Linked DNA regions of Homo sapiens: regions 1 and 3 are each linked to region 2. Evidence: fine-mapped expression QTL. A gene starts in region 2. Each other region holds a variant in brackets. All regions are shown on one strand. Distances are from middle to middle.

What was found. PIP is the estimated chance that this variant, and not a neighbour inherited with it, causes the effect.
Region 1: its variant is fine-mapped to the expression of MCL1 in whole blood (GTEx, PIP 0.96).
Region 3: its variant is fine-mapped to the expression of MCL1 in whole blood (TOPMed, PIP above 0.99).

The regions. Positions count from the first base shown.
Region 1 is chr1:150,765,665-150,772,375 of GRCh38, forward strand. CTSS (cathepsin S) reads right to left here and starts at 114. Exons shown (of 8, transcript NM_004079.5): 1 at 34-114. RefSeq lists enhancers at 1-129, 1-132, cis regulatory regions at 57, 60 and a silencer at 5,325-5,444. The variant G/A (reference allele first, on the strand shown) is at 2,218.
Region 2 is chr1:150,575,059-150,583,837 of GRCh38, forward strand. MCL1 (MCL1 apoptosis regulator, BCL2 family member) reads right to left here and starts at 4,552. Exons shown (of 3, transcript NM_021960.5): 1 at 3,785-4,552; 2 at 3,186-3,433; 3 at 1-2,433. The coding sequence starts at 4,472. The coding sequence ends at 2,317. LOC107985203 (a long non-coding RNA gene) reads left to right here and starts at 4,772. Exons shown (of 3, transcript NR_186818.1): 1 at 4,772-5,161. RefSeq lists enhancers at 2,810-4,009, 2,970-3,688, 3,689-4,406, 4,455-4,749 and silencers at 4,323-4,452, 4,523-4,862.
Region 3 is chr1:150,607,260-150,616,038 of GRCh38, forward strand. No RefSeq gene overlaps it. Among named protein-coding and RNA genes, the nearest start is that of ENSA, 18 kb to the right of the region's middle. RefSeq lists enhancers at 1,207-1,893, 4,234-4,528. The variant G/T (reference allele first, on the strand shown) is at 4,368.

The sequences.
Region 1 (6,711 bases), 190 kb after region 2:
CCAAATGGGAGAAAAAGAACAAAGAGTACATACGTGATAGAACCAGCAGTTGCTCCCACAGTAAGAGTCCTTGAATTAGTGGGCTCTCTTCTAAGATTTCAAAGCAACAAGGAGATTTCAGTTCAATTGACTTGAAAAGAAATTGGAACTTGTCACATGAGGTACTCAAAATGAGGAAGTGAACTTTCATTTCAGTTTCATTTAAAATCTAGCTAGTACAGTCACCTCTAGTCATTTCCCTATGGTCTTGGGGACAAAGTGGATACAGTAAGCCATCAAGAAGAGCCCTTGTCTGAGCCCAGTGGCTCATGCCTATAATCCCAGCACTTTGGGAGGCTGAGGCGGGAGGATCACTTGAGGCCAGGAGTTCAAGACCAGCCTAGGCAATATAGTGAGACCCTGTCTCTGCAAAAAAATTTTTTTTAATTAGCTGGGCATGGTGGTGCATGCTTGTAGTCCCAGCTGAGGGGGAGGGTGAGGTGGGAGAATTGCTTGAGTCTAGGAGGACAAGGCTGCAGTGAGCCATGATTATGCCACTGTGTTTCAGCCTGGATGACATATCAAGACCCTATCTCAAAAAAAAAATTAAATTGAATTTTAAAAACACCAACTTTTACATGGAAAACATTTAGTTATAAAGAGATTTAGATAAAGCTCCCCAAATCCCAGCTCCTTGTATGATTTCCTAGGAAAACCTGTCTTACTGCTTTTAACACAACTCATTCATGATCTGATATTGTCTGGTTCTCACTCAGCCATTCCTTCGTTCATCAAACTCAAAATGTCTTTATTAATATATACTATATGTATAGTTTAGTAATATGCGTGTGTGTGTGTGTGTGTGTGTGTATGTGTTAGTATATTCATGGAAAAAAGGATACACTCAAATATATCCAATTGAGAATGATTACCTGGGTGGGGTGGGAGCAAGACGAACTATCATCTTTTAAATTTGCATTTTCCTAATTACTAATGAGGTTGAGGATCTTTTCACACATTTATTGACCGTTTGAATTTTCTGTGAATTTCCTGTTCATCTTTTTTGCTCATTTTTCTATTGTATTGTTGCATTTTCTTAGTGATTTGTGGGAGGTGTGTGTGTGTGTGTGTGTTGTGTGTTTTCCGAGACGGAGTCGTGCTTTGTCTCCCATGCTGGAGTGCATTGGTGCGATCTTGGCTCACTGCAACATCCACCTCCCAGGTTCAAGCGATTCTCTGCCTCAGACTCCCAAGTAGCTGGGATTACAGGCACCTGCCAGCATGTCCAGCTAATTTTTGTATTTTTAGTAGAGACAGGGTTTCACCATCTTGGCCAGGCTGGTCTTGAACTCTTCACCTCGTGATCCACCCGCCTCAGCCTCCCAAAGTGCTGGGATTACAGGTGTGAGCCACCGTGCCCGGCCAAGGTGTATGTGTTTTAAAAATATATTCTGGCTTCTAATCTTTGACAGTTATATACCCTTAAAAACATCCTCCCTTAGTCTTCCACTTGTCTTTTATTTTATTTTTTCTTCCTTTGCATAAGCCTATGAAATTCCACTTGTCCTTTAGTCTTGTTTATAGTGAGTTTTTCTATATGAAATTTTTTTATGTTGAGGTAGAACATTTTATTCAGCTTTTCCGTATAATCAATCTATACTGTTTTTGTATAAGAAAATTTTCCTCATCCAAATGTAATAAAGATACACTCATCTTATTTTTATACTTTCAGAGAGTGTTTTATTTATCTTTTCTATGGCTACTGCTTTTAGGTGTTTAATTCACCTGGAATTTAGTTTTGTGTATGGTATGACGTAGGGAGCTTATTTTCTTTGTTTTCCAATTTTGATTCTACCTCTATTGTACACCAAATTCTCATACATAGATAGGTCAGTTTCTGAGCTCATGAAGCTGTTCTTTTTATCTTTTGCTACTTCAGTATCACACAGTTTTAATTAAAACAGCTTTGTAATATGTCTCCACGTATGGTAAGGCAAGTCATCTAGGCCACCCTATCTTTGTTCTTCTTTTTAAACATTGTCTTTGTATTTTGTACTTGTTAACTCTTCTTTATATGAATTTTTTGAATCAGTTTATCAAGTTCCCTGAAAAACTCTGTTGGAGTTTTTTGCTTTTTTCTTTTGGAGACAGGGTTTCATTCTGTCACCCAGGCTGGAGTGCAGTGATGCAATCATGGCTCACTGCAGCCTTGACCTCCTGGGCTCAAGTGATCCTCCC[G/A]CCTCAGCCTCTGGAGTGGCTGGGACTACAGGTGCACACCACCATGCCTGGCTGATTTTGTTTTTTGTTTTTTGTAGATAAGGGGTTTCACCATGTTGCCCAGGCTGGCCTCAAACTCCTGGGCTCAAGCAATCTGCCCACCTTGGCCTCCTGAAGTGCTGGGATTACAGGCATGAGCCCCCACATCTGGCTATTAGAGTTTTTATTTGAATATATGCATAAATTTAGGGAGAAGTAACATCATTATAATGTTGATTCATCTCAGCTGTAGTAGACATGTTTGTGTTTGTAGCCATACAGTTTTTTTTAAAAAGATACTGCTTATGGAAAATTTAAAACACATGTAAAAGTAAAAATAGTAGTAAAATGAGCTGCCGTGAAACCATTGTCTTGTTTCAACAATGATCAGTACATGGCCAATCTTATTTTATTTATATTCCCACTCTCACTACCTGAATTATATTAAATAAATTCTAGACATTCTGTCATTTCATACGTAAATGTCCCTGTGTGTGTCTTTAAAAGACAGAGACTATTAAACAAATATAATACCACAATACCATCATCACATCTAAAATAAATGAACAATAATTTTCTTTTTTTTTTTTTTCTGAGACAGAGTCTCACTCACTTGCCCAGGCTGGAGTGCAGTGGTGTGATCCCAGCTCACTGCAATCTCTGCCTGCCGAGTTCAAGCGATTCTCCTGCCTCAGCCTCCCAAGTGGCTGGGATTACAGGCATGTGCCATCACACCCAGCTAATTTTTGTATTTTTAGTAGAGATGGGGTTTCACCACATTGGCCAGGCTTGTCTCGAACTCCTGACCATAGGTAATCTGCCCACCTCAGCCTCCCTAAGTACTGGGTTTACAGGTGTGAGCCACTTTATTGTCATAAGAAATTAAGACAATAATTTCTTAATGTCATCAGACATCCTATCAATGTTCACATTTTCTGGACTGTCTTATACATTTTTTAATAGTTTGTTTGAATTGAGATTTAAATAAGCTCCATATATTGTGAAACCATTGAGTTATGTTTATATCATTATGAATTCATGGATTTAAACATATTTGATGTGTTTCAATCCATTCCAGTTTTATCCTTATTGATACTCATATTGTCTCATTTTTGGTCTGTAGGAATTTATTCAAACTGGCTCTTTGGTGCAGACAGAGTTTGTATATTTGGCATAATATTAGTACTCTTTAAAAGCTTCCTTTCTTTCTAATATGACAGGCTATTGCAGGTTTGTCTTGAACAATTCCTGCCCCAGACCTGGAATCAGCCATTTCTCCAAGGAGCTCTGGTTCCTTTTAGTGGAAACAATGTTTAAATACCATAATCTAGGAACTAGCAGTGTTTGGGATAGCAGATTGACCATTGTTGCTAAGCCTTTTCAGTAGCTAGAGCTAAGAAATATCTTTTTTAAAAAAATTAAATAAATCACAAGCTGACACTGATACTTCAAATTCAAATTCAAGACTATAGGGTTTACTCACCCCATCAATCTTATATCTGCACTTCTTTTCAAACATGCTTAAAAAATCTGGGTTCTCTAAAATATCAACTCAAGTACTTGTTTAATTTATCCTGTAAAATTGCAGAATAACAACAACAAGCCTACGCCAATAAGATTGTTAATGAAAACAAATTAGAGGTTTTAAAGTGGAGGGGGACAGGTTTTTCTCCATTAAGCCAAATGTCGCTAACGATGTAAGTCAATTACTGTGTTTTGAAGTCACCTGGAATAGTTCCCTGTATGGTTATGCTCCACCTCCATACACAGGTTTATTTGTTTCATTTCACTTCTTCCTTTTAGGGCTTGCTTTTTACACTTATGTAATTTCATTTTATAATTATGTAAAACATTTATGTGGATCCAAAGTGAAATCATCACAATGAGGTATATTCAAAGAACTCTAGCCTCTACTTTTGTCTGTTTTACACGATTTCCTTTTTTCCTTAATTGGTAATCATTTAAAAAATTTATGGTTTATCTTCCTATTTTTAGAAATATGCAAATATGCCTATATATTAATATTCTTTCATCTTAAGTGAACACTAACATATTACACATATTTTTCTCTATCTTGTTTTTTTCACTTAGCATTTTTTTTGTTTTAGTCAATCACTTAACATTTTATTAAGAAAAATTATTCAGGCGAAAGACATTAGCAGGTGTCCTTTCAGTGATGTGCTGGGTATTATTTAGTGGACCTTTACAGGAATTGTTTGATTCTTTTTAGAGTTAAGTTGTAAAAAACTGATAACTATGCAAATGATCCCTATACATGGCAATGCAAATAAATTTTGTATTGTAGATTTCACTGAATAGAGAAATAGAGAATGTAGATCTCTGTCAGTCGAATTCTTTTTTTTTTTTTTTTGAGACACGGCCTTACTTCATCGCCCACGCTGGAGTGCAGTGGTGCGATCTCAGCTCACTCTAACCTCCGCCTCCCGGATTTAAGCGATTCTCCTGCCTCAGCCTCCCCAGTAGCTGAGATTACAAATGCACACCACCACACCCAGCTAATTTTTGCATTTTTAGTAGATACAGGGTTTCACCGTGTTGGCCAGGCCGGTCTCGAACTCCTGACCTCAGGTGATCCACCCACCTCGGCTTCCCAGAGTGCTGGGATTACAGGCATGAGCCACCATGCCCGGCCTCAAATTCTTATTTGAACTGACTTTAATCTTACTGATCCCTTATTAATTAATGAGTTAAACTTCGATGCGTTCGTTGTATATTTGCTCTCAGCTTTTTAGAAACTATACTTTAGCAATTAAATTCTGATAACTCCACAGTAGTATATACAGTGTTCATTTATTTTTATGGCCACCTAGCATCTTTTGAACAATATTCCCATGTTTGGAGAATTTCCCACGTTATAAATTTTGCTTCTCCAAGTTGAAGCCAAAGCTCCATTTTCAAGGATCCAGTGCAGTTAAGGCACAGACATGAGACCTAGCCTTTGCCAGTCAGGCACACCTGTATAGAACATCATTTTGCAAGTGGGTAAGTGAGGAACCAGAAGTATGTAAAATCCTCCTTTTGGTGAGAATGGCAGTAGAGATGTCTCCCAGCAGCAGCAGCACCAGCAGGAGCAGGAGCAGCAGCAGATATTCTAATATCTGGTCCCCAGTGTCACCTGTTCAAACTGTAGTGTTTATGTCAAATATTGTGTCTGCTCAGTGGCATCATAGGTTGAGCAGTCCTCTCTGTGGTTTTGGTGATGTTTGTGGTTACACAATAAACAAACCTCACCGACTTTCTGGCCTTTCATAGGTTCTTTGAGTTTCCGGCACTTTTTTTTTTTTTTTTTGAGATGGAGTTTCACTCTTGTTGTCCAGGATGGAGTGCAATGGCATGATCTCGGCTCACTGCAACCTCCGCCTCCCGGGTTCAAGCGATTCTCCTGCCTCAGCCTCCCAAGTAGCTGGGATTACAGGCATGCGCCACCACGCCAGGCTAATTTTGTATTTTTAGTAGAGACAGGGTTTCGCCACGTTGGCCAGGCTGGTTTCAAACCCCTGACCTCAGATGATCCGCCCGCCTTGGCCTCCCAAAGTGCTGAGATTACAGGCGCAAGCCACTGCGCCTGGCTGCTTCCTGCACATTTTAAATAAACTGTAGTACCCGGATAGATGAACCTAGTATTGACATCCACAGCCGTGTTGAGTTTGGAAAAACAAGGGTGGAGTGTCAGAAGCTAGAATGGGGAAGGTGCTTTTCTCAGGCTGCGAATACAGGAAACTCAAGAAGAAAGCTATTGTGGAGCTCTCAATAATTTCAGGTTGCCTTCTCTATCCTTCTTTACACATCTGATCTCATACCTGATGTTTTTTGCTTTTAGCCTTGATACCTCTATATGTATTTCTATCCATAGAAATAGACAGTTCAATTTCCTTAATGAGAAATTAGCATAGGAACAAATTTCTTTCCATCAAGATTAAATGGTAGACAACTGCTTTTACAAGGGACCATGTATTTTTCCAGTCATTGTTTCTCTGTCTGACGAGGTCTATAAATCTACACTCAGTACAGAGCATAAACGTGGTGATTAGGCAACAGCACACCTTCTGTCTCCATTCCTGGGTATTGCCTACATGGAATTGTGTATGAAATTATGTCTCTACCTGTTTCCGGTAATCCTCTACCAAGTGGGAAAAAATTTTGGGGTTAATTGTGTTTTCTAGTGGTACTCTAAACCGGATTCAGGACGGCAGCGGCCATCTAAATGTCTTCCTTTGTTTATTTCTAAATCCATAAATTAATTCCAGATTTACCAAGAAACTAAATTGAGTTGATCCCAAAATGAAACAGGGCTCTCAGGGACATACTCACTTCTTCCCAGCCTGCCTTTGGACTCAGTAAGTAAGCAGAGACTGTGTTTATTTGTCTGATATACATGACCCCTGGTTAATATGTAGGTCGTAGAAGAAACCAAAATTTTACTTATGGAAGGCAGGGAGAATAGAGATGAATTAC
Region 2 (8,779 bases):
TCTATGCACTTGTTTCCACTGGATTTGGCAGACAGGCTTTTTTAGTTACCGTAACCAGATCTTAAGATTAATTAAAAACTACATAAAGTGCTTTTAGGTCCTTAGAGATACATGATATAAATAAGCGGCTTATGATCAAGAACGATAAATACATAGGTAAAAATAGCTCTAGCAAAGATGACCTTATGGCTCTGAGATGGGCAGGCAGGGCAGTTCTTCCCCATTACATTCTTAGTCATCTTATTCATACCTATTTTTAAATGGAGTCCACAGACTAAAGGTCATGTTCCGAGACTGAAGCTTTCAAATGACCCTAGTTCCAATATAGACACTTTCTTCAGTTTATCAGTAGCTTTTAAACTCTGAGGTTTAACACAGCTCACCTCTTTCTGTAAATTTAAGTGAGCATACTCCTATACAAAGGAAACTTTAGAGAAAGCCTCATAAAATGTTCTTTCCTCTGAAAATTCCTGAGGGGACTTTTGACACATTGCCCCCAAAGACAGGATAAAACAATAGTTGAAAAGATACCAGTCCAAGGAAAAGGGACTTCCTCCCACCTCTCAATGACTGTTAGTGTCACAGCACCCATGGTATTACCACCTGCTAACAGGATCAAGTTCGTGAAAGATGAAAGGTCTGTGGACTCTTGGTGGGGAGGGAGGGTCACTCAGGTTTCCAGCAGGGGTTTCACAGTGCCAAAATCTAAAAGGGCTAGAAAGAGTTCAGGGATGGCAGGGGAAAGCTGTAGGAATTGATATAAATATCTGTAGAGGGAGCAGAACAATCAGCAATTTCAAGGAAGGACAGGAAATAAAAGGTTAAGTCTGATAGAACAAACATCAAGACTGAAATCCAAAGATGCCAATGCAAAAACTTGCAACAAGGTTTGGGAATCATTAATAGAAACAAAACAGTAAGTATTTGCTTTATTGACATACTAGGCTTAGACCTGTGTGTGTAACAAGCAAGCCTAATAATAGCACCATGGTTAGACTAGCCTGCTTTTCCAAGCCATCATTTTATAATTTATTAAGCAAACAAGGGATCAAATGTCTCTCCATCCACCTGATGTGATCTTTTTATATGCACACAGCTAATGAGTTCCATTCAGCTGAAAATCTTTTAGTAAAAGCTTTAAAGATGAGCCCATGAATTCACTTTAAATTTCACCAGTTAAATTAGGTCAAATGGAAGGAACTCAAATGAGTATTGCCCAATCAGAGCCCATTATTTGTAAGTCATCAGTAACCTTAAAACTCCACTTAGACCTAATTATTGAAAACTTGCATATAATGAAGTGAAAGAATTTCCATTCATCAACCTCTCAATCCCAGGTTTTCAAAGAAAAACCTAAGGAATACTTACCAAAATCAGATAAGAAAATTTAAACCTGCATAGTTATCAGATTTGTTCCACTACAACCAGTCTGCATACAGTTACACATCAATTCGTTCTGTATACACTCTAGAACTGAACAGAACAAAGTTTAGCATAGAAAAGCTGTAAGAAACAGGTTCCTAATTACGGAAGTTGCAAAGTTCAAAAGGGTATGAAAAAAACTAATGTAAATTCGATACTTCCTTCGTTTCAAAGAAATAGACTTTCTGTAAAAATATATACAATTTTTACAAATACATTTACAAGCTGTCTTAAGAATTGAGGATATCCATATTCATAACTAATTACTGAGCCTTCCGTCAAGTATTATTGGTGATAAACTAGGCTAATAAAGTAAGAATCATGGAAACCAAGCCAAAGTATAACAGGTATAAAAGTCCTGAACACTTGGACTTTCTAAGAAGTATACTGGGAAAGCTAATTAGAGAGAGGAAAAGCTTCCCTTGTACAGTACTGAGGCTTACAGTCATAGTTCTATTACTTGTAACTTTTACACAGGTCACTGGCATTCTTAGTGCTTCTCTTAACACTACAGTAAATTAATGAATTCGGCGGGTAATCAATTCTATGACTTGCCTGGCTACTGGCCACTTTCCTGTTCTCAACAAGGAAATTAAGTCTTTCCACCCTACCATCTTCACTAAATCTAAAAGTCCTCCTCCATAGCTTCCCAAACAAAGTTTGTTTGTTGCTGAAACTGAACTTTGCTTCTTTCAGACAGTGACTCTTCAATCAATGGGGAGCACTCTTCCCATGTATTTATTCTTGTTAGCCATAATCCTCTTGCCACTTGCTTTTCTGGCTAGGTTGCTAGGGTGCAACTCTAGGAAGTTACAGCTTGGAGTCCAACTGCATAAACTGGTTTTGGTGGTGGTGGTGGTTGGTTAAAAGTCAACTATTGCACTTACAGTAAGGCTATCTTATTAGATATGCCAAACCAGCTCCTACTCCAGCAACACCTGCAAAAGCCAGCAGCACATTCCTGATGCCACCTTCTAGGTCCTCTACATGGAAGAACTCCACAAACCCATCCTAGAAAACAAAAAAGAAAAGCACATTTTCAAGTATGGGTTTCTGCTCTCTTACAACACTACTATCCAGAGAGAAGGTAAATTAAAATATCTAAGGTTTCCCCCTAAAGCAATAGTAAACCAATTATTATTCACCCCGGGGCAAAAAAAGAAAATAAGTTCTTCAGTTTCTTAAGCGGGGACCCATGATAATTAAACTTCATTTTACAGTACTATCTTGGTCTTATTAGGATTTATCCTAACAAAAGGACTTCCAGAGTTCCCATGAGGTAAAAGACGAAAACCCTTATTCTCAAATCTCCACCACCTAATATTTCAGTAACGCCTCAATTGCGCAGATCAGTTTTTCTCAACGTAGTTAAGTACATCCTGCATCAGATCTGGGTTTGTTTAAAACGCAGGCTCCACCCCATATCTTCTCCATTAAAACAGGCACCGCCTTAGGAATTATTTCAGCTATCCTCCCCTGGTGACTTATTTTTTCATGGTTTGAATCCACTGAAGAGTATTCAACTGAATTGGAACAAAAAATTGCCTAGAGAAAACCAAGATTTTTGATACAATTCAAGACCGCCATACCACTATCTCTAAGGATCCACTACTTAAATCAACATCAAATAAACAATGGTCCTTTAGTTAGAGCCTGCAAACAGCCGTGCGTCATAAAAACCTTTAGATATCCCCACCTCTCTAAAAAAAATCCTTCATTCTACTTCCACTCCAAGGCCCCTTTCATCCTTAAGGCAAACTTACCCAGCCTCTTTGTTTAACTAGCCAGTCCCGTTTTGTCCTTACGAGAACGTCTGTGATACTTTCTGCTAATGGTTCGATGCAGCTTTCTTGGTTTATGGTCTTCAAGTGTTTAGCCACAAAGGCACCAAAAGAAATGAGAGTCACAATCCTGCCCCAGTTTGTTACGCCGTCGCTGAAAACATGGATCATCACTCGAGACAACGATTTCACATCGTCTTCGTTTTTGATGTCCAGTTTCCGAAGCATGCCTGAGAAAGAAAAGCATGCAGGTCCTCACGGCCTCCTTTGTCTAAACCGGCGCAAGATTCGCCTGCCCACCCGCGGCGGGAAAATCGCTACTGGGATTTACAGAACTCAGGTTGACCCCACTTGAAATTGACATCCCACCCTTTCCGGTCTTTGAACAAGAGCTGCCATTTCCAAAAGAATCAAGATGGGCGGAAACAATGACTCATGGCCAGAATATTCTGGCTTCAGGAATAGGATGAGACACGTTTCAACACTGACTCGTTTCGGTTTCCAACCCACCCTTGGCGGGTGAGTCCGGGGAGAGATGGAAAAAAGGGAGTGAGGCCTTGGCGATTAATGAACCCCCTTACCTTGGAAGGCCGTCTCGTGGTTGCGCTGCACGCCATCCCCAACCCGTCGTAAGGTCTCCAGCGCCTTCCTGCTGGTGGCCCCAGACCTGCCCATTGGCTTTGTGTCCTTGGCGCCGGTGGCCTGCTCCCGAAGGTACCGAGAGATAATCTCCAGCGACTGCCGGTACAACTCGTCCTCCTCCTCCTCTGCTGGCGGCGGCGTCGAGGGTAGTGACCCGTCCGTACTGGTGTTATTACCAGATTCCCCGACCAACTCCAGCAGCGGCAGGACAGCCGGCCGCTTCCCGAGAGGCTCCGGCTCGTACCCGTCCAGCTCCTCTTCGGGCGACATGATGGCGTCAGCGGCCGGGGCTTCCATCTCCTCAAGCGGCGCCGCGCGGCGGGTGGGCGCGAAGAAAAGCAGCCTCGCGGGGGTCGCGGTGACGTCGGGGACCTCGGCGCCAATGGGCGGCGGCCGCGCGACCCTCCGGGAGTCTGGCGTGAGGGTGGACGGGGGGCTTGCGCCGGCGCTTCCGCCAATCACCGCGCCGGCCTCCCCTCCCCCTATCTCTCGCCGGGCCGAGGCCTCCTTCTCCGTAGCCAAAAGTCGCCCTCCCGGGCGGGTGGCGCCGCCGCTGCCGGCCCCCAAGCCGGCCCCCCCACAGTAGAGGTTGAGTCCGATTACCGCGTTTCTTTTGAGGCCAAACATTGCCAGTCGCCGCCGCCGCCTGGCTGAGAAAACTGGGGAAGACCCCGACTCCTTACTGGAAGGAAGCGGAAGTGAGAAGTGGCGAGCAGCTCCTTTATCACGGTTTTAGGGCGGCCAGTCCTACGGGGTGGCGCCAGCGAACTCTTTTTTTTTAAAAAAAGTATTCCCATAAAAGGGGAAAGGGGCGGCAGCTTCCGGAGGGTTGCGCACGGCACCTACCAGCTGCCCGGCCGGGCCGGGGCGGGGCCGGGGCCGGGGCCGGGGCCGGGGCCTGAGCCGGGGCCTGAGCGGGGCCTTCCGGTCTTCGGAGGCTCTGAGTGCCGGTTACGTAACGGCGGCTCCGAGCGCCTGGGGTCCTCCCAGAGCTCCTGGGCTCGAGCTCTTTCCATGAGCACCTCGGGCCTTCTCGTGGCTACCTCTGTGCTTCCCTGAGACCTGATTTGTGAGCCCTTTTTGCTGGTTTTCGCCAGAGGTTTTTTACCAAATCAAAATTTCAACCATTGACTAACACAGGGGTTGAAGGAAGAGGACGGGGAAGTTCAGTGATGGATGGGAACAACAGTCTTAGATGATAGGGATAATTAAGAGGGCATAGTTGGGGACTTGTGGTTATTTTGCACAGCTCTCTACTCTCAGTCCAATGTTTGGAAATGAGGATGCTCCACGTGCTACCCTAAAGAACCATTTATGTAAGTGGACTAAGCTAAAACTGCCACAGCTAAACTATTCCTGCCTCCCTGCTTGCTTCTCCCATCTCTGTTCCATAGTCTTTGGTGCTATTTACATATAGGCCTTAATCCATTAGAATCTCGTCTGAGAGTCTTGACACCATTTTTTGTTTGTTTTGAGACAGTCTAGCTCTGTTGCCCAGGCTGGAGTGCAGTGGGGCGATCTCGGCTCACTACAAGCTCCACTTCCCACGTTCAGACGATTCGGTACCTCAGCCTCCCGAGTAGCTGGGATTACAGGCGTGCGCCACCACATCTGGCTAGTTTTTGTATTTTTGGTAGAGATGGGGTTTTCACGATGTTGGCCAGGCTGGTCTCGAACTCATGGCCTCAAGTGACCTGCCTGTCTCGGCCTCCCAAAGTGCTGAGATTACAGCTGTGAGCCACCTCGCCCAGCTGATTATTGTATTTTTAGTAGAGATGTGTTTCATGCGCGTCTGTGTGAAGACACCACCAAACAGGCTTTGTGTGAGCAACATGGCTGTTTATTTCACCTGGGTGCAGGCGGGCTGAGTCCGAAAAGAGAGTCAGCAAAGGGTGATGGATTATCATTAGTTCTTACAGGTTTTGGGATAGGTGGTGAAGTTGAGAGCAATGTTTTGTGGGCAGGGGTGGATCTCACAAAGTACATTCTCAAGGGTGGGGAGAATTACAAAGAACCTTCTTAAGGGTGGGGGAGATTACAAAGTACATTGATCAGTTCGGGTGGGGCAGAAACAAATCACAATGGTGGAATGTCATCAGTTAAGGCTATTTTTACTTCTTTTGTGGATCTTCAGTTACTTCAGGCCATCTGGATGTATACGTGCAAGTCACAGGGGATGCGATGGCTTGGCTTGGGCTCAGAGGCCTGACAATGTGGTTTCACCATGTTGGCCAGGCTGGTCTCAAACTCCTGGCCTCAGGTGATCCACCTGCCTCAGCCTCTTAAAGTGCTGGGATTACAGGTGTGAGTCACTGCACCCAGCTGACACCATTTATTTTTGTACTGATAATAAGGCACATTTGACTCTAGAGGTTTGTAAAGCCCTTGAGAACAAGGATCTTCTTATATGCCATGTATGTTAGTTAACGTTAATTAAAGCAGCCTTTTTGTTAAAAGATCTGTAAAAATAATAGCTAAAATTCAAAAGCAAGGTGCTGAGAGACATAGGAAAGGTGAGCAAGCTCACTTTTTATTTATTTTTTTGAGATGAGGTCTTGCCCTGTCACCCAGGCTGGAGTGCAGTGGCACCATCAGTGCTCATTGCTGCCTCAACCTCCTGGGCTGAAGTGATCCTCCCACCACAGCCTCGCGAGTAGCGAGGAACACAGGTGCATGCCCCTATACTTGGCTAATTTTTTTATTTCTTGTAGAGATGGGGTATCACTATTTTGCCCAGGCCGGTCTTGAACTCCTGGACTCAGGTGATCCTCCTACCTTGGCCTCCCAAAGTGTTGGGATTACAGACCGGGCTCTGTGCCTCATGCCAATAATCCCAGCACTTTGGGAGGCTGAGGTGGGTGGATCGCTTGAGCCCAGGAGTTTGAGACCAGCCTGGGAAACATGGCGAAACCCTGTCTCTACTAAAAACACAAAAATTAGATGGGTGTGGTGGTGCGCATCTGTAATACCAGCTACTCTGGAGGCTGAGACAGGAGAACTGCTTGAACCCAAGAGACGGAGGTTGCGGTGAGCCAAGATAGTGCCACTGCACTCCAGCCTGGGCAACAGAGCAAGACTTGGTCTCAAAAAAAATAATAATAATAATGAGGCCTGGCGCAGTGGCTCACACCTGCAATCCCAGCACTTTGGGAGGCCAAGGCGGGCGAATCATCTGAGGTCAGGAGTTTGAGACCAGCCCAACCAACATGGAGAAACTCCATCTCTACTAAAAATACAAAATTAGCCGGGCCGTGGTGGCACGTGCCTGTAATCCCAGCTACTTGGAAGGCTGAGGCGGGAGAATCGCTTGAACCTGGGAGGCGGAGGTTGCGGTGAGCTGAGAGTGCGCCATTGCACTCCAGCCTGGACAACAAGAGCGAAACGCCATCTCAAAAATAAATAAATAAATAAAGTGTTGGAATTATAGGCGTGAGTCTCCCTCTTGGCCAAAAGTTCCTAATCCCCAAAATGTCACAGTTTAGTAAGGTGATACGGCGTCCATACCACCCATTTATGTTTTGGGCAGGACCTAGAACCATAGGGGTTTATAGTATGAGTGGCAAGGATAGAGCATTTTGTGGTTATAGTGAATAAGAAATAGTTTCTCTATTTAAGGAATGTCTAATCTTGTACAGCAACTAACCATAATGTGAGATGGAATGTATGCTCTACACAAGGCATTAACAACTTCATTTTGGAGTTAAGAGGTTGGGAAATTCACTTTGGGCTGAGAGAGCTAGAGGAAAGTGTTATGGAGGAGGTAGCTTTGCTCTCATGCTTTATAAAGTAAAATTTTATCAGGTGGTAAAGTGGAAAGAGATTGAGGAAATAGGAGGAGCAATGATTTTTCCTTGTACAGAGGCTAAAAAAGGAAATGCAAGTTTCACTTTAAAATAAATTGCATTTATTCATTATTTGTTATTATTATTTTTTGAGACGGGTATCACCATGTTGCTCAGGCTGGAGTGCAGTGGTGCAGTCTCGGCTCACTGCAACCTTGACCTCCTGAGCTAAAGTGATACTCCTACCTCAGCTTCCCAAGTAGCTGGGACAACAGGCCAGCACCACCATGCCTGGCTAATTTTTGTGTTTTTTTGTAGAGATGGGGTTTCACCATGTTGTCCAGGCCAATCTCGAACTCCTGGCCTCAAGCCATCTGCCCTCCTTGGCCTCCCAAAGTGCTAGGATTATAGGCATGAGCCATTGCAACTGGCCCTGTTTGTTAGGAAACAAGTCTTGGTCGGGCACGGTGGCTCACGCCTGTAATCCCAGCACTTTGGGAGGCTGAGGCGGGCAGATCACGAGGTCAGGAGATCAAGACCATCCTGGCCAACACGGTGAAACCCCGTCTCTACTAAAAAAAAAATACGAAAAATTAGCTGGGCATGGTGGCGGGTGCCTATAGTCCCAGCTACTCAGGAGGCTGAGGCAGGAGAATGGCATGAATCCGGGAGGCAGAGCTTTCAGTGAGCCGAGATCGTGCCACTGCACTCCAGCCTGGGCAACAGAACGAGACTCTGTCTCAAAAAAAAAAAAAGAAAGAAAGTAACAAAGTCTTGCTATGTTATCCAGGATGGTCTACAACTCCTGTCCTCAAGGGATCCTCCCACCTGAGCCTCTTGAATAGCTGGGATTATAAGCATGAGCCACCACACCCAGTTTCAAATACATTTTATTTTATTTTATTTTACTTATTTTTTTTTTGAGACGGAGTCTTGCTCTGTTGCCCAGGCTGGAGTGGAGTGGCACAATCTCGGCTCACCACAACCTCCACCTCCTGGGTTCAACCGTTTCTCCTGCCTCAGCCTCCCAAGTAGCTGGGACTACAGGTGCGCACCACCATGCCCGGCTAATTTTTGTATTTTTAGTAGAGACAGGGTTTCACTATGTTAGCCAGGCCGGTCTCAAACTCCTGACCTTGTGATCCACCTGCC
Region 3 (8,779 bases), 32 kb after region 2:
TTCAATTTGAAATTTATTTATTTATTTTTTGAGACGGAGTTTCCCTTTTGTCGCCTAGCCTAAAGTGCAATGCCACAATCTCAGCTCACTGCAACCTCCTGCCTCCTGGGTTCAAGCAATTCTCCTACCTCAGCCTCCCGAGTAGCTGGGATTACAGGTGTGCGTCACCACCAGCTAATTTTTGTATTTTTAGTAGAGACAGGGTTTTACCATGTTGACCAGGCTGGTCTCAATCTCCTGACCTCAGGTGATCTACCCGCCTTGGCCTCCCAAAGTGCTGGGATTGTGGGCATGAGCCACCATGCCCAGCCTGAAATTTATTTATTTTTTTTAAAGTCAGTCTCTGTAGAGACTGTCAAAAATTGCCAATGCCAACTATATTGTAAGTTACCACAGTGGGATATGTGAAAATTCTTTTTTTTTTTTTTTGAGACATGGTCTCACTCCATCACCCAGGCTGGAGTGCAGTGGCAAGATCACAGTTCACTGCAACCTCGACTTCACGGGCTCAAGTGAGCCTTCCATGGCATGTGCCACCATGTCTGGCTAACTTTTTGTAAAGACGGGGTCTCTCTAAGTTGCCTAAGCTGGTCTCAAAACTCTTAGACTCAAGGGATCTGCCTGCCTTGGCCTCCCAAAGTGCTGGGATAACAGGTGTGAGCCACTGGGCCTGGCCCAACAGAAACCTTTTCTTTTTTTCTTTTGAGACAGAGTCTCAACTCTGGAGTCTCACTCTGTTGCCCAGGCTAGAGTGCAGTGGTGCAATCTTGGCTCACTGCAATCTCCACCTCCCAGGTTCAAGTGATTCTTCTGCCTCAGCCTCCTGAATAGCTGAGATTACAGGCGTGTGCCACCACACCCGGCTAATTTCTGTATTTTTAGTAGATGGGGTTTCGCCATGTTGGCTGTGCCGGTCTCGAACTCCTGACCTCAGGTGATCCACCCGCCTTGGCCTCCCAAAGTATTGGGATTACAGGCGTGAGCCACCGTGCCTGGCTTGAAACTTTTTTTGAGACAGAGTCTCGCTCTGTCGCCCAGGCTGGAGTGCAGTGGCGCGATCTCAGCTCACTGAAAGCTCCGCCTCCTGAGTTCACACCATTCTCCTGCCTCAGCCAAGTAGCTGGGACTAACAGGCGCCTGCCACCACACTCAGCTAATTTTTGTATTTTTGGTAGAGACGGGGGTTTCACCGTGTTAGCCAGGATGGTCTCGATCTCCTGACCTCATGATTGGCCTGTCTCGGCCTCCCAGAGTGCTGGGATTATAGGCGTGAGCCACTGTGCTTGGCCTGAAACGTTTTCAATTAGCAATAATTGTACATTGGACAAACCTCATTGGCTATGATACTGCCACTGCACAAAACTTAAAAAAAATTTTTTTTTTTGAGACGGAGTCTTGCTCTGTCGCCCAGGCTGCAGTGCAGTGGCAAGATCTCGGCTTACTACAAGCTCCGCCTCCGGGGTTCACGCCATTCTCCTGCCTCAGCCTCCAGAGTAGCTGAGACTACAGGCGCCCGACAGCACGCCCGGCTAATTTTTGTCATATTTTTTAGTAGAGACGGGGTTTCACCATGTTAGCCAGGATGGTCTTGATCTCCTGACCTCGTGATCCGCCCACCTCGGCCTCCCAAAGTGCAGGGATTACAGGCGTGAGCCACCGCGCCCAGCCAAAATTTAATTTTTAATTAAACAATTAATATATGAATATTTTCCTTGGAAAAAAGGAAAATATAGATGACACAAAAGTTCCTATGATTACCACTTCCAATCTCACTCCCCTAATTCTTTTCTGGAAGTGACCACAATTCTTTTTTTTTTTTTTTGAGACAGAGTCTTGCTCTGGTGCCAGGCTGGAGTGCAGTGGTGCGATCTCAGCTCACTGAAACCTCCGCCTCTTAGGTTCAAGCGATTCTTGTGCCTCAGCCTCCCGAGTAGCTGGGATTAAGGCACACGCCACCACACCCAGCTAATTTTTGTATTTTTAGTAGAGATGGGGTTTCACCATGTTGGCCAGGATGGTTTCGATCTCCTGACCTCGTGATCCACCGGCCTCAGCTTCCCAAAGTGTTGGGATTACAGGCGTGAGTCAACGTGCCTGGATGTAACAGTTCTCAGTTTAGCAGTTATCCTTCCAGTTCTTTTTCAATTGATCTGTGCTTTTTAACCCATAAAAATAGGATAGATAGTAGTATCTGTCTCACAGGAAAAGAACAGAAGTGAAATGCAAAGTGGGTAATGTTTTCCTTTTTCTCGTTCCTAAGAGCTGAGACCTACTGCAGAAACACAGCTGTACAGTACATTCAAGCTGAAGAAAAGAAAATCTTTTTTATTTCCAAGGGTGGAATTATCTGCCCTTGGTATTATCTAATACCTTGTATTTTAAAATATAAGTTTTTTGTTTTCCAAAAAACTCAACAGACATCACACACAGATTTTACAGTAGGTACAAGCTCTAGCCTGGCACACAACACAGCCAGCGTCTTGGACAGGGGTCTGCCAGAGGAGGGTAGCAAAAGCCAAAAGCCCAGAAAGTATTCTGCTTCCTTTGTCCTCTTCCATTTTAGCCAGGCAAGGAGCATTCTGTGTCTTATATCTTCTTTTCCCTGTGGCGTTCATTTCCAATTGCAGAAAGGAGGTCATATGACCAGATTCTTTCCTTAAACAGCTTTCCAGCTGAGTACAACAAAGACAAAACAAAGCAACCCTGCTCCTCCACAATTCTGCTCTTCCATCACTCTACATGGCAGGAGAAACTCCCACAATAGCTTTTTCCTACTGTCAGAGAGGAAGCATAAACCAAGATTTCCAAAGGCACCACTGGTTGGTTCCCAGGTGCCCTAGAGTAGGATTTTTATTTTATTTTACTTTATTATTTTTTTTTTGAGATGAGGTCTTATTATGTTGCCCAGGCTGGTCTTGAACTCCTGGTCTCAACAAATCCTCCTGCCTCAGCCTCTGAGTAGCTGGGATTATAGGCACTCGCCTCCACACCTGGCTCTAGGATTTTATTTTAGCATAAAACCAAATTCCACTTTGCTAGCCATGATACAAGTTTCTTTTTGAGACGGAGTCTCATTCTGTCGCCCAGGCTGGAGTGCAGTGGCATGATCTCGGCTCACTGCAACCTCTGCCTCCCGGGATCGAGCAATTCTCCTGCCTCAGCCTCCCGAATAGCTGGGATTACAGGCGCCCACCACCACGCTAGACTGATTTTTGTATATTTTAGTATAGACAGGGTTTCACCATGTTGGTCAGGCTGGTCTCGAACTCCTGACCTCAAGTAATTCACCTGCCTCAGCCTCCCAAAGTGCTGGGATTACAGGCGTGAGCCACCCTGCCCGGCCCCTCTTTTTGTATATCTAATTTAATTCTAACAAAAACATATAAGGTTTTTAGTTTAGTTTTTGAGACAGGCTGTTGCCCAGGCTGGAGTGCAGTGGTGTAGATATGGCTCACTGCAGCCTTGACCTCCTGGGCTCAAGGGATCCTCCTGCTTCAGCCTCTGGTACAGCTGGGACCACAGTGCGTGCCACCACACCTGGCTAATTTTTAAGGTTTTTTTGTAGAGATGGGGCCTTACTCTGTAGCCTAGGCTGGTCTCAAACTTCTGGGCTCAAGTGATCCTCCCATCTTGGCCTCCCAAAATGCTGGGATTGTGGGCATAAGGCACCACGCCCAGCCCAGCCCATATAAGGTTTTTTTTGTTTGTTTGTTTGGTTTTTTTGTTTTTTTTTTTTTAAAGACAGAGTTTTGCTCTGTTGCCCAAGCTGGGGTGCAGTGGCACGATCTCAGCTCACTACAACCTCTGCCTCCTGGGTTCAAGCGATTCTCCTGCCTCAGCGTCTCGAGTAGCTGAGATTACAGGTGTGCACCACCACGCCCAGCTAATTTTTGTATTTTTAGTAGAGACAGGTTTTCACCACATTGGCCAGGCTGGTCCTGAACTCCTGACCTCAAGTGATCCACCTGTCTTGGCCTCCCAAAGTGCTGGGATTACATGCTTGAGCCACTGCACCTGGCCCCATATAGAGTTTTTATTGTCATTATTCCCATATTACAGATGAAGGGACTAAGGCTCAAAGGGTAAATAAGTCTGTTCTTAAATAGTGACTTCCTGAGACACAGGAGATGTTTAAGAACAGTACTGGTAGGTGGGAAGTGGCATTTTGGAGCAGGAGTGAGAAGCATGAAAATGTAGCAAGAATAGAAAAGGGTGGGAAAACAGCAAATTAAGAGGAAGAAAAATGCAGGTCCTAGCAAGAATTGCTACTCACCACTGCCAGAGTCTGGGCCATGTTCTAGGTGTGTATTTAAACAAATCTCCATAGCAACCATCTGGTTTCTGTTTTTCTATGACAACACGGGCTT[G/T]CATTTCTAAATACAAGCACTGGTGAGGACAAGTGTGGGCTGGGGAAGGGAAGTGGGACCGCTGAGTCAAGGGGAAATTGCGCAAAAAAGGCAAAGGTTCTCTTGGTATGCCCTCATCTATCCCCTCCCAGCACACCCTCAAGGAAGGGGTCTTTCCTTGACTCACAGCAGTCATTGTTAAGAGCTGAGCCTTGTATGCACTTTGTCTTTTGTTTTGGAGACAGAGTCTGGCTCTGTCACCCAGGCTGGAGTGCGGTGGTGTAATCTTTGCTTACTTAAACCTCTTCCTCCGAAGTTCAAGCAATTCTCTTGCCTCAGCCTCCCGAGTAGCTGGGACTACAGGCGCCTGCCACCACTCAGTTAATTTTTAATTTTTTTGTAGAGACAAGGTCTCACTACATCGCCCAGCCTGGTCTCAAACTCCTGGGCTGAAGAATTCCTCGTGCCTCGGCCTCTCAAAATGCTGGCATTACAGGTGTGAGCCACTGTGGCCAGCCCATGATATCTTATTTTTACCAATTATGTAAATTCCTATCTAATTAGGGTATACCCTTGGTGCAAGAGGGGGAAGGGTAGATGCTTTTGCTTCTCATTTTCAACCCAGGTGGCACTTTTGGAGATACTGAGGGTAGAGAGAGGTTGGAGGATCTCATCTGATAAAGGTGTGGTAGCCCCAGAAAGAAAGGTGAGAAAAAGGCAGCTAGGCATGGAGATGCAGGAATAAGAATAGATACTGCCATGAGGACTAAGTGGGCCCAGACCTGAGTTAAAACAGCCCCCCATCCCCGCTTTTTTTTTTTTTTTTTTTGAAATGGAGCCTCTCTCTGTCACGCAGGCTGGAGTGCAGTGGCGCGATCTCGGCTCACTGCAAGCTCCACCTCCCGGGGTTCATGCCATTCTCCTGCCTCAGCCTCCCGAGTAGCTGGGACTACAGACGCATGCCACCATGCCCAGCTAATTTTTGTATTTTTAGTAGAGATGGGGTTTCACTGTGTTAACCAGGATGGTCTCGATCTCCTGACCTCGTGATCCTCCCGCCTCGGCCTCCCAAAGTGCTGGGATTACAACAAGAGCCCCTTTCTTAAGCATAGTGATTCTCAACCAGGCAACCAGGCAACTCCAGGGGGCATTTGGCAATGTCTGGGGACTTTTCTGATTATTCTGACTAAGCAACTAATGGGTAGAGGACAAAGATGCTGTTAAACATCCTGAAATGCACAGGACAGTCCCTGCAACAAAGAATTACTTGGCCCAAAATGTCAGCAGTTCCAAGATTGAAAAACCTGAGTAAAGAGATGCTGGTCCTACAGGAAACGTCTCCTTTGTCCATTGCAGGAGCACCAGTGTGACAGATAAAACCATTTGAGGGGGGCCGGGCATGGTGGCTCACGCCTGTAATCCCAACACTTTGGGAGGCCAAGGTGGGTGGATCACCTGAGATCAGGAGTTCGAGACCAGCCTGGCCAACATGATGAAACCCCATCTCTACTAAAAATACAAAAAATTAGCTGGGTGTGATGGCTACCTGGGAGGCTGCGGCAGGAGAATCGCTTGAATCTAGGAGGTGGAGGTTGCAGTGAGCCGAGATTGCGCCATTGCTCTCCAGCCTGGGAAACAAGAGCAACACTCTGTCTAAAACAAACAAACAAAAAACTATTTGAGGGGGATATACCAGAGATGCCTGCTTGTTCCCCTGGGCCCTGAGTCCCTCTCAGACTTTCAGACCAAGTATTTTTAGTTTACTTCTGACAAAAATAAATTCAAGCCAGAATCCAAATTTGCTGTGAAATCAGCTGGTTCTAGAGAATAGGGTATTTTCCTATACCCTTCTTGGTATAGGCAAAACTGCCCCACAGAGGCTGTGCAATCAGGCAAAGGCATGCTCCTCTTGGCCTTAGTTTCACCATTTGTAAAACGAGTACACTGAACTCAATGATCTCGAATGTCCCTTTAGTTCCAAAACTCTGTACTTTTGGACATTTAAGAAATATCCTGGGCTGTACAGTTTGGGTCTGTAAAAAAGGAAATGACTCAAATGCAATAGAGGAAGCCTAAGGATGACTCAGACTTCCCTAATCATAAACGACACTTCAGACATGGACCTTAACGTCAAACCAGGATTCATGATCACTAAATGACTTTCCTTTTGTACGTGTGAGCAGGTGGCGTTCACCAGGGGTGAGACTTTATTGACAGTAAGTTGCCTCTGCCAAAAAACGCCCTCATATGTCTGCTGATGTTTGAATTTCTCCTATGCAGAGTTTTGTCTCCAGTTAAAAATGTAAATACTGTTGTTTCTTGTTGGAGCTCAGAGGAAAAAAAGATAACTACTCTAGGATATGTATCAATTTGATGCTACTTTATTTTATTTATTGAGACAGGGTCTTGCTCTGTTGCCCAGGCTGGAGTGCAGCAGTGCAATCACAGCTCACTGCAGCCTCAACCTCCTGTGCCCAATCGATGCTCCCACCTCAGCCTGCCATTGCTGGAACTACAGGCACATGACAACACGCCTGGCTATTTTTTTTTAATTTTTCAGACAGGGTCTCCTTACATTGCCCAGGCTGGTCTCAAACTCCTGTACTCAAGTGATCCTCCCCCTTCAGCCTCCCAAAGTGATGGCATTACAGATGTGAGCCACCTCACCCCAGCAAGTTGATTTTTAACAAAAGATAACAGCAAAACCCCAGATAAATTAGCAAACTACCTTCACAGCTCGATGTGAGAACTCTCTTAGTTTTATTTATTTATACACAGAGTCTCATTCTGTTGCCCAGGCTGGAGTGCAGTGGTGCAAACACAGCTCACTGCAGCCTTCACCTTCTGGACTCAGGCTATCCTCCAGCCTCAGCCTCCCACGTAGCTGGGGCCACAGGTGCATGCCATCATGCATGGCTAATTTTTTAATTTTTTTGTAGAGATGGGGGTCTCATTTTGTTGCCCAGGGTGGTCTCGAACTCCTGGGCACAAGCCATCTTCCCCTCCCAAAGTGCTGGGATTACAGGCATGAGCCACCACCTGGCTCCAATCTAAAATTTTATATTCTTGCTACAATGTTTTGAACTTCCAGGTTAATCATTTCTGCTTCTAAATCATCTGCTCTTTGACCTTATAAAGAGTTCTCTTAAAAATAAATAAATAATAGAGAAAGAAACAAAGAATTCTCTTGACCAGAGGTTTTTTTTTTTTTTTTTTTTTTTTTTTTTTTTTTTGAGACAGGGTTTTGCTCGTTGCCCAGGCTGGAGTGCAATGGCGCAATCTTGCCTCACTGCAACCTCTGCCTCCCGGGTTCAAGAGATTCTCCTGCCTCAGCCTCCCTGGTAGCTGGGATTACAGGCGCACGCCACCACACCCAGCTAATTTTTTGTATTTTTAGTAGAGACGGAGTTTCACTATGTTGGCCAGGCTGGTCTCAAACTCCTGACCTGACCTCATGATCCACCCACCCCAGCCTCCCAAAGTGCTAGGATTACAGGTGTGGGCCACCGCGCCTGGCTTGACCAGTTTATCACAACTTCCTTAGCCTATTTTCTTATCTAGCTATAATCAGAGAGATTCTTTAATCTTTCACCAGCACTTTCATCCCCTTGCTTCCTTCTTAGTATACTTTATCTGTCTACAAATCCTGACTCAGGATCTAAACAATAATGTCGTCCCTGCTCTTGTACCCAGGGAGCTAGGTGCTTCTAGAGAAAATAGCACAAAGATATGGATTGGTACCATTACATGTTCATGGTACCAATCTGTTAGAACCTCAACATTGCTTGCTTCCTAACCACCCCTCCCCACCTTTTTTAAGAGATGGGGTTTGGTTATGTTGCCCAGGCTGGAGTGCAGTGGCTAGTCACAAGCACGATAATTGTGCACTGCAGTCTCGTCCTGGGCTCGAGATCTTCCTACCTCACCGTCCCAAGTAGCTGGGACTATAGGCGTGTGCCACCATGCCTGGCTTTTATTTTTTGTACAGATGAGTTCTTACCATGTTGTCCAGGCTGGTCTGGAACTCCTGGACTCAAGCAATCCTCCTGCCTCAGCCTCCCAAACTGTCGGGATTATAGGCGCCTGAGTCATTGGGCTCCGCCCCTCCTCTCTTCTATGTCCTTTTATGGCTATACTTTTTACACTCCCACCTCTCTAACATCCTACTTTACAAGTCTGACTAAAGCTGTCAGACAACGACTCCTATAAATTACTTAGCCCCAGTCAAAAACAATCAGCTGGGAGTTTACTGTTATATTTTCGCCTTGAGTCTCCAGCAGGATGAGGCATATATAGTCCTACTTGAGACCACTTTCTCACTCAGTTGGCTTCCCAAGTAGACTAACCCCACCACCTAGTAGAGTGGCTGGCACACGGTAAGTGCTCAGCAAACGTCTGCAGAAGTAGACCATGTAACTAAACCACATCCACCT